3 linked regions of the Homo sapiens genome follow. The protein of the gene in region 2 purifies or fractionates together with the protein of the main gene of each other region. This does not show direct contact. Each region holds a gene or a part of one and is shown on either strand. Other genes may lie near its edges.

Evidence for each region.
Region 1: the proteins of ITLN1 (region 2) and NACC1 purify together in Homo sapiens (affinity purification with mass spectrometry; 3 studies listed by BioGRID and IntAct, with this or other methods). This does not show direct contact.
Region 3: the proteins of ITLN1 (region 2) and ACSL1 purify together in Homo sapiens (affinity purification with mass spectrometry; one large-scale study listed by BioGRID and IntAct). This does not show direct contact.

Annotation. Positions count from the first base shown.
Region 1 is NC_000019.10:13,124,709-13,128,363, forward strand, and holds part of NACC1 (nucleus accumbens-associated protein 1), read left to right. Parts: intron 1-3,655. UniProt on the Homo sapiens protein: Functions as a transcriptional repressor. Seems to function as a transcriptional corepressor in neuronal cells through recruitment of HDAC3 and HDAC4. Contributes to tumor progression, and tumor cell proliferation and survival.
Region 2 is NC_000001.11:160,878,976-160,882,200, reverse strand, and holds part of ITLN1 (intelectin-1 precursor), read left to right. Parts: coding exon 1-244; intron 245-888; coding exon 889-1,047; intron 1,048-1,492; coding exon 1,493-1,613; intron 1,614-2,786; coding exon 2,787-2,890; intron 2,891-3,225. UniProt on the Homo sapiens protein: Lectin that specifically recognizes microbial carbohydrate chains in a calcium-dependent manner.
Region 3 is NC_000004.12:184,755,026-184,757,617, forward strand, and holds the end of ACSL1 (long-chain-fatty-acid--CoA ligase 1), read right to left. Parts: intron 2,241-2,592; coding exon 2,100-2,240; 3' UTR 570-2,099; downstream 1-569. UniProt on the Homo sapiens protein: Catalyzes the conversion of long-chain fatty acids to their active form acyl-CoAs for both synthesis of cellular lipids, and degradation via beta-oxidation. Preferentially uses palmitoleate, oleate and linoleate.

The sequences.
Region 1 (3,655 bases), on a different chromosome or scaffold from region 2:
CCTTGTTACACTTGGAGTTGCTGGTCTCCCTTAACTGGCTTGTAGGTCTTAGCCCATCTGGGCTGCTGTAATAAAATACCTTAGACTGGAAGCCAGGCACATTGCTCATGCCTCTAACCTCAGCATTTAGGAGGCTGAGATGGGAGGATTGCTTGAGCCCAGGAGTTCGAGACCAGCCTGGGCAACATAGTGAGACCTCATCTTTACAAAAAAATTTAATTTTAATTTGTTTTTCACCCGTGACACAGCCCTCAGGAGGTCCTGAGAACATATGTCTCTCGTCTTTGCAAAAAATTGTTTTAATTAGCCGGGCGTGGTGGCACACATCCCTAGTCCCAGCTACTCAGGAGGCTGAGGTGAGAGGATAACTTGAGCCCAGGAGTTTGACGCTATAGTGATCCAAGATTGCACCACTACGCTTCAGCCTGGGTGACAGAGCAAGACCCTGTCTCAAAAAAACAAAACAGACTGGGCCATTGATAAACAACAGAGATGAGCTGCTCATAGTTGTAGAGGGTGGGAAGTCCCATATCACGGTGCTAGCAGATTCCGTGTCTAGTGAGGGCCCATCTCTCATAGATAGCACCTTTTAGGTATCTGCACAGGGTGGCAAGGACAAACAAGCTCCCCCTCTTTTATACGGGCACAGTTCGTATTCATGAGGACAGAGCCCTCCTGACTGAATCAACTCCCGAAGGCCCCACTTTTTTTTTTTTTTTTTTTTTTGGTGAGACGGAGATTTACTCTTGTTGCCCAGGCTGGAGTGCAGTGGTGCGATCTTGACTCACCGCATCCTCCGCCTCCCAGGTTCAAGCGATTCTCCTGCCTCAGCCTCCCAAGTAGCTGGGATTACAGGCATGTGTCAGCATGCCAGGCTAATTTTGTATTTTTAGTAGAGACGGGGTTTCACTGTGTTGCCCAGGCTGATCTCGAACTCCTGATCTCAGGTAATCCGCCTGTCTCTGCCTCCCAAAGTGCTGGGATTACAGGCGTGAGCCACTGCACCCAGCCCTTTTTAAATTTTTGATCAACAACTTCTTTTTTATTTTGAGATGGAGTCTTGCTCTGTTGCCCAGCCTAGAGTGCAGTGGCGTGATCTTGGCTCGCTGCAACTTCCACCTCCTAGGTTCAAGCAATTCTGCCTCAGCCTACCTAATAGCTGGGATTACAGGCGTGCACCACTGCGCCCAGCTAATTTTTGTATTTTTAGTAGAGATGGGGTTTCACCATATTGGCCAGGCTAGTCTCCAACTCCTGACCTCAGGTGATCCGCCCACCTCGGCCTCCCAAAGTGCTGAGATTACAGGCGTGAACCACCATACCTGGCTGAAAGGCCTAACTTTTTTTTTTTTTTTAGACGGAGTCTTGCTCTGTCACCAGGCTGGAGTGCATTGGCCCGATCTCGGCTCACCGCAACCTTCGCCTCCTGAGTTCAAGCGATTCTCCTGCCTCAGCCTCCCGAGTAGCTGGGATTACAGGCACGTACCACTGTGCCTGGCTAATTTTTTGTATTTTTAGTAGAGATGGGGTTTCACCATGTTAGCCAGGATGGTCTCTATCTCCTGACCTCGTGACCTCGTGATCCGCCCTCCTCAGCCTCCCAAAGTGCTGGGGTTACAGGCGTGAGTCACCGTGCCCAGCCAGCCCCACTTCTTAATACCACTACATTGGAGATAGGCTTTAGCATGTGAATTTTGGGAAGAGGCAAACATTCAGACCATAGCATCTGTCGACGGCCATGTCACAGCTTCCCTGGAAAGACATCAGGAAAGGACTGTGCCTTTGACAGTCTCTCACAGGCCCATGCTGGCTGGGGAATTCCTCAGCTCTCTTCCCTAAGAGCTGACAGTTACTACTCCCAGGAATCATCCTGCCAGCCCCCTTCCTGCAGATGGCAGGATCCACCGGCAGTGTGAGCAATTCGTCAGGTAACACTGCGGTCTCAATAGGCCCCTGACTGCTGGCTACCCACCTTGGCAGCTGTCAAAGGAGGTCGTCTGTCTGCCCAGCCACAGATAATGCTTCTGAGCCCTATTCCTGTTTGAGCCACGTTAATGTGGAACAAAACAGGGAGTTAGGTTAGGAGGAATGGAAGTAATTCTTTGTTCATTTTTTCCACGAAGGACTGTGAGCACCCACTGTGTACCTGGCCAGGTCCTAGGGGTAGAGGACACAACAGGGATCTACACAGGCAAACTCCCTGCCCCAGGGAAACTGACATGAAGCCCCAAAAAATGCCCAGTTTGGCAGGGGTGGTGGCTCGCACCTGTAGTCCGAGCACTTTGGGAGGCCAAGGCAGGAGGACCACTTGAGCCCAGGAGTTTGAGACCAGCCTGGGCAACATTAGGGAGACCTCGTCTCTATTACTAAAAAATGCACAAATAAATAATTTTTTTTTAGAAAAAGAAAAATGGCCAGCTTGCTAAATAAATCATAGGAACTCCCAAGAAGGATAAGTCAAGCAGGGAGAATCAAGCCAGGGAGTTAGTGTCGGGAAGGGCTTTGTTGGTCAGACGCAGTGGCTCATGCCTATAATCGCAGGGTTTTGTGAGGCTGTGGCAGGAGGAACACTCAGCTGGGAGTTGGAGACCAGCCCAGGCAATATAGTGAGATCACGTCTCTACCAAAAAAAAAAAAAAAAAAAAGCATACATATACATATACTTTTTTTTTTTTTTTTTTTTTTTTTTTTTCGGTTAACTGGATGGGCCGGGTGCCGTGGCTCACGCCTGTAATCCCAGCACTTTGGGAGGTGGGCGGATCACTTGAGGTCAGGAGTTCAAGACCAGCCTGGCCAACATGGTGAAACCCCATCTCTACTAAAAATAGAAAAATTAGCCAGGCATGGTGGTGGTTACCTTTAATCCCAGCTACTCAGGAGGCTGAGACAGGAGAATCGCTTGAACGATTCTTGCAGTGAGCCGAGATCCCACCACTGCACTCCAGCCTGGGCGACAGAGCGAGACTCTGCCTCAAAAAAAAAAAGAAAAAAAAAAATTAGCTGGATGTAGCTCCTGTGGTCCCAGCTATTTGGGAAGCTGAGGTGGGAGGATTGCTTGAGCCCAGGAGTTTGAGGCTGAAGTGAGCTATGATGGTGCCACTGTACTCCAGCCTGGGTGACAGAGCAAGGCCCTGTCTCCAAAAGCAAAAGAGTAGAGAAAGGGCTTTATGTGACCAGGGAGAGTATGAAGAGCTATGGCTGTCCCATTCCCATTCTAGTAGGTCCGAGAGCAAGCAGGGCCAGACTGCCAGGGGCCCCAATAAAGCATTGTAGGGGCCCAGGCAGTGTCACTTGGGGCCAAGGTAGTACAAAGTGGTTTTGAAGGAGTTGAAGATGAATCCAAGGATCTGAATGAGGAGGGCCAGAGCTGGTGAAGCTACGGCATTCACAGGTTTTGGGAAGGACTGGAGCCAGGTCCTGAAATTGTTGAGTGGAGGTGTCTGGGGTGTGTGCGAGTCTGGCATTCACAGGGAAGTCCGGGCCAAAGACTCCAGTGGGGGAGGCATCAGTGAATAGATGGTGCTTCAGGCCTGTCTTAGTCAGCTCAAGCTGCCACACAACAAAATATCACAGACTGGGTGGCTTAAACAACAGACATTTATATTTCAGAGTGCTGGGGGCTGGCAGTCTAGATGAGAGTGCCAGCGTGGTCAGG
Region 2 (3,225 bases):
CCTGTATTTTCTCCGCACTGAGAATGGTGTTATCTACCAGACCTTCTGTGACATGACCTCTGGGGGTGGCGGCTGGACCCTGGTGGCCAGCGTGCACGAGAATGACATGCGTGGGAAGTGCACGGTGGGCGATCGCTGGTCCAGTCAGCAGGGCAGCAAAGCAGTCTACCCAGAGGGGGACGGCAACTGGGCCAACTACAACACCTTTGGATCTGCAGAGGCGGCCACGAGCGATGACTACAAGGTTGGTGCCACTTCTTACCCACTCGGGTGAGGGTGAGGAGTGGAGTGTGGCTGGCCACAAGCCTGCAGGAGGGATGGCTGGAAGGTAGGGGTGTGGGATGGGCTGGAGAAGAAGAGAGAAATACTTATATCTTTTTTTTTTTTTTTTTTTTTCTTGAGACGGAGTCTTACTCTGTTGCCCAGGTTGGAGTGCAGTGGTGTGATCTCGGCTCATAGCAACCACGGCCTCCTGGGTTCAAGTGATCCTCTGCCTCAAAAGTAGCTGGGACTACAAGCGCCCACTACCATACTCAGCGAATTTTTGTACTTTTAGTAGAGATGGGGTTTCACCATGTTGGCCAGGCTCGTCTCGAACTCCTGACCTCAAGTGACCTGCCCGCCTTGGTCTCCCAAAGTGCTGGGATTATAGGCATGAGCCACCACACCCAGCCAATTTACACTTTGAATCACAACTTCCTCCTAACAAGGCTGTTAGGGCCCTGGGTGTGGTGGGATCATCGGCTGGGAGTGGGGTGTCTGAGTATGGTTGGCCATCTGCTCATCTGGAGTCCAGAGCTCTCACAGTCCAGCTGAAGTTGCATGTGTGGACCTTCTGCCTCCTGGGACCTCCTGGCCCAGTCAGGCTCAGTGTCTGTTGCTTTCCAGAACCCTGGCTACTACGACATCCAGGCCAAGGACCTGGGCATCTGGCACGTGCCCAATAAGTCCCCCATGCAGCACTGGAGAAACAGCTCCCTGCTGAGGTACCGCACGGACACTGGCTTCCTCCAGACACTGGGACATAATCTGTTTGGCATCTACCAGGTACAGAAGGCTGCTGGCTGGGACTGGTTTTCATGGGTGTACAGAGAAGCAAGTGTTAGAGGTTGGGCAGGAGTCATTTTTTAATGGGTCTGTCTCCCATGTTCTTCTAACCCAGATTTGCTGATGGCTTCTGTTGCTTCTCTTAGGAATTCTAAGCCAGGCAAGAGAAGGGACCTATTGGAGAGGACAGCTGGGGCAGGAAGAGTGTGGATGGGTCAGGGAGAAGGAGAGAGAGATAATGAAGTGGTCCAGGCTGCCGCAGAAGCACAGCTCTCGCCTAACTGGCAGCAGTGTCATGGAAAGATTCTTATTTTGACTGGTTTTGAAGTAATCTCAGTTACTGAGAAAGCATTGTTTCTCCTCTATGAATGGCAGCATCCCAGGAGATGCTGGTAATGGCAAAGCTATTGTCTTTACTCCATGACTTTTTCTGTGTTCTTTGTAGAAATATCCAGTGAAATATGGAGAAGGAAAGTGTTGGACTGACAACGGCCCGGTGATCCCTGTGGTCTATGATTTTGGCGACGCCCAGAAAACAGCATCTTATTACTCACCCTATGGCCAGCGTGAGTCTTTAATGATCCTCTGAACTCCTGGTAGGAAAGGGAATACATTCAACTATGCTAGGTAACAGTTATGCATCGGACTGAAGCTTGGTTCTCTCCTGTAATGTTCCCTATATTGCCCCACTTGATTTGCATGGCTGCCTTTGAGATCTGAACTTTATTAACCTCATTTTAGGAAACTGAAGCACTGAGAGGTTTAGAAACTTGTGAAGATCACAAGGCATATGTGGAAGAATCAGCAACTGGGGTGAGGAAATTTGGCTCCAGACTTTTTTTTTTTTTGAGATGGAGTTTTGCTGTTGTTGCCCAGGCTGGAGTGCAATGGCGCAGTCTCAGCTCACTGCAACTTGTGCCTCCCAGGTTCAAATGATTCTCCTGTCTCAGCCTACCAAGTAGCTGGGATTACAGGTGCCCACCACCACGCCCAGCTGATTTTTGTATTTTTAGTAGAGATGTGATTTCACCATGTTGGCCAGGCTGGTCTCCAACTCCTGACCTTTGGCGATCCGCCCCCTTCGGCTCCCAAAGTGTTGGGATTACAGGTGTGAGCCACCACGCCCGGCCAGGCTCCAGACTCCAGACTCTTTACTCCTAACAACCCACTCTCAGCCCTGCAGGAGCTTGTTAGGACCAGGCCAGGTCCATGTGCACAGAACAACCAAAAAAATGGCGAGACTTTTTTTTCTATTGTGAGTTTATTTTGTGTGAAGCCAAAGTTGGTAGCATAGTACGCTCCGCAGAGGCTGAGCATATATTATAGAACTCAAAGCTGTTATTATTTACATTTTGGAGTTGAGATTTTAAAATAAAGGAGAAAAGAAAAATGTAAACAGGAACAGAGTGAATACATCTGTTAATTTCTGCAACTCAGCCCTTGGAGATGTTCAGTGGTGATCTTCCTGCAGAGTTGAATTTCTCTTCACAAGCCTCTGGCAGATGAGGAGCCCTCTCTGAGGACCAGCTCTTCATCTCTGGGGTTGGGAAAAGGTCCCTCTTAGCTAAGTTTGAGGCCAGGATGTAGCAGCCATTGGCCACAGGGGTGCTGGGCTCCACCAGTACAGCTGGAGTGTTGGGCTGTAGCCTGAGCTTTGGCATCGAGAGCCTCTGGGCTGGCCTAAGGAAAGCAATTTCTAGCATCTTCCTTGAATGCTGTTTTCTGCCTCTTGTTTTCAGGGGAATTCACTGCGGGATTTGTTCAGTTCAGGGTATTTAATAACGAGAGAGCAGCCAACGCCTTGTGTGCTGGAATGAGGGTCACCGGATGTAACACTGAGCACGTGAGTCTCTGTGGGGACTGCAGGGACCTGTGAGTAAGGTCGAGTTTGTCCGTGTGTGTTGGTATGTGTGAGTGTGTTGAGTGTGGTATGACTGGGGTGTGTGTGTACGTGTGTGGGAGTGTGACCTTCTCTTGCTCATTGCTGAGCTTCAGGGGCCAGGGCCATGGGAACTTTTGTCCAGGTATACATATCCTGTCACTTTGAAGACCAAAATCAAGGGGTGAGGCTTCAAAAGAACCATTACTGGGTGTTCAGCCTTTGTGAGAAAACACTCAATCGCTTGGAGCTGGGGTGAGGCTTGTGTGCTGAAACATTGTGTAGAAGTCTTTAGAGCT
Region 3 (2,592 bases), on a different chromosome or scaffold from region 2:
ACATCATCACACCAAACAGAATTTAAGACAGGAAACTAGATTTAAACACAACAGGCTTGGAAGAAATTAGGGGGTTGATTCATTAATACCTGTGGAAAAGAAAATCTTTAAAATGGTAACAGAAGGAATAGGGTGGAGATAGAAGAAAAGAAACAAGAAAAAGTTGGCTGCTATAAAGAGACATCTGAAATAATTCTACAGTAAGAGAATGACTAAACAGTGCTAAAATACAATAGTGGGATTACATTCACCACGGAATCACCAGTTACAGCCAGCGTCGCCTGAAATACATTTTCCAGCAAGGAAGCTGCATTTTCAGGACCTTCTCTGTTATTCACACCATGACTTTCTTTTCCACAACCAGTTAGGACTTTTGCCACAGACAACCTGGTGGGAGGCTCGGGTCAGTGTCTGTCAGTGCCTGAGGCCAGCTGAGTTAGAGGAGGGTGACTAAGAAGAAAAGAAGACAACTGGGAAGGATTCCAGGCCCAGGGCCATTCTTGCTCTTCGCTTGTGCACATTACAGGCTGTTCCGAATATTAAACATGACATTAAAAAAGATGCCTCACTCACCTGAAATGCAGAAATATTTATTTTGGTTTCCTTCATTGTTTTTGGAAATTTTGTTTTGGTTTATAAAACATAGAAATAGCCAACACTTAAAGCAAACATTCAAAACCCCAAGGTGACAAATTATTGACTTTTTGTGCAATTAAGAATACATATATGAAGTTAGGCTACCAAGTAGTGTTATTACAATGACAATTCTTTAGTGCAAGCCCTGTTGTGCTTGTATATAATACATGTACTCTCACAGACCCCAAAACAGCTGCTTTAAATGTACAAATGACAGCTCAATTCAGTCAAATGTGGCAAAGACTCACAATAAAGTGAACTGCTGTTAATTTCCCAAATTAACTTTAAAAAATCCCTGGAGAAGTGAATCCCAGGAAATGAACTTTCCAGATTTCTACATCCTAGAATTTTGGCTTGTCAAACACATTTCATAGAAATCAGGTAGCATTATAAGAACATTTGCTTATTACTGTCCATTTCAATAAGTACTCAAGTATATACTCCCTTAATAGCTTTAAAGAAATGCTTGCCTGAGAGTTTATTTTTTGGGGAAAAAGGCAAGTTAATCCCAACATGATCTTTTGATATGAAAACCACATTAAAAATCTGTTGGCCTTTACACAGAGTGAGTGGTTCAGTGAAGATAAAGTAGACAGTTATTCAGGCGTCACAGCTGAGCATGGCTGATCCAGGTAACTCTTTCTTGAAATGCTTGTCTTCACTATAGAATCTAAGGCAGATTTTTAAATAACCCCTGAAAAAGGATGGAGTCGGGGAATCAGGCCTGGAGAACCGAGTCCAAGAGCATTCTGCCATGAAAGAGAATCCACGCGTTCTGATGAGCACCCATTTGCCAGAGGCTCCTTATCTGCATGGTTCTGAGTTGGATCTGCCCTCCCGCTTACTGGAAACCTTATGCTCCAACAGAAACCACAGGGGACTGGAGAAGAACATGAGTTTCGTAACCCTTACGAATCAGAAGGGTTCTGTGAATGCCTGTGAGAAGGGACAGTAGCAGGGATTTAAAAAGATCTCTGGTCCGCTTGTGAGATTCTCCAGCCAGGACAGTTGTTCTTATTTTTAAAGGGAACACTTCCCTCTAGTGCACTGTACTCTTTAGAGCAGCAGACAGCTGCAGAATTTGCAGCAAGTAGCAGACATCTCAGAGATAGCAAAGTCCTAACCCCTTGATTAGAGAAACAGGGAGACAGAAGATTTAAAACCCACTTTTTAAACTGAGGAAGTCTCAAATAACTTAGCACATTTATAGTATCCCCTTTACAATTTTTAAGGCTCATTTTGGAAAGTGTGTATTACCATAAACATGGTCTGCAACATGAGGTGACTGTAAGGCAGTGTTCTCTTTCCTCTAGCATTCCTATGAGAAGAACCCCGAATGGACAAGTCAAACACGAACGCTTCCTTCCCTACACTTGCTGTATTCAAAATTAACAACATGAAGGCCATCAGCAGGAGAAGAGATTGTGGAACTGTGCCATTTCCTCTGAGCTTTCTTCTTCACACTAAACCTTGATAGTGGAATAGAGGTCATCTATCTGCGACCTGAAATAGTTCCGCAGCTCTGGCCTTTTCGCCTTCATTGTTGGAGTCAGAAGGCCATTGTCGATAGAAAATAATTCAGGGTGCAATGTGATGCCTTTGACCTGCCAATAAACAAGGCAGTTAAAAGAGGAAAAAGGACACGGGCCACCAGTCTCAAAAGCACGTAAGCCTTGGAGGGGATCAACACTCTCCAGCCATCCAATCCATCCTCTCATTTCAGCCAAGCTGCACCTTCTCAACAAAGGACAGGCATCCTATTCTTAGGATAGGATTCGGGATCATATTCTGATATCCAGGAAAAGAGAATAAATGCTTTTGATTTAAAAACCTTTCCCCTGTCAAACTACTCCATTATTTATTCCTCATGTATGTCTTTAGGTCACCCCATATGTTTATATAATCTACCTGTAAAAAAATCTTAATGGAAAATTTGTTTTACAGGAATTCACCCAC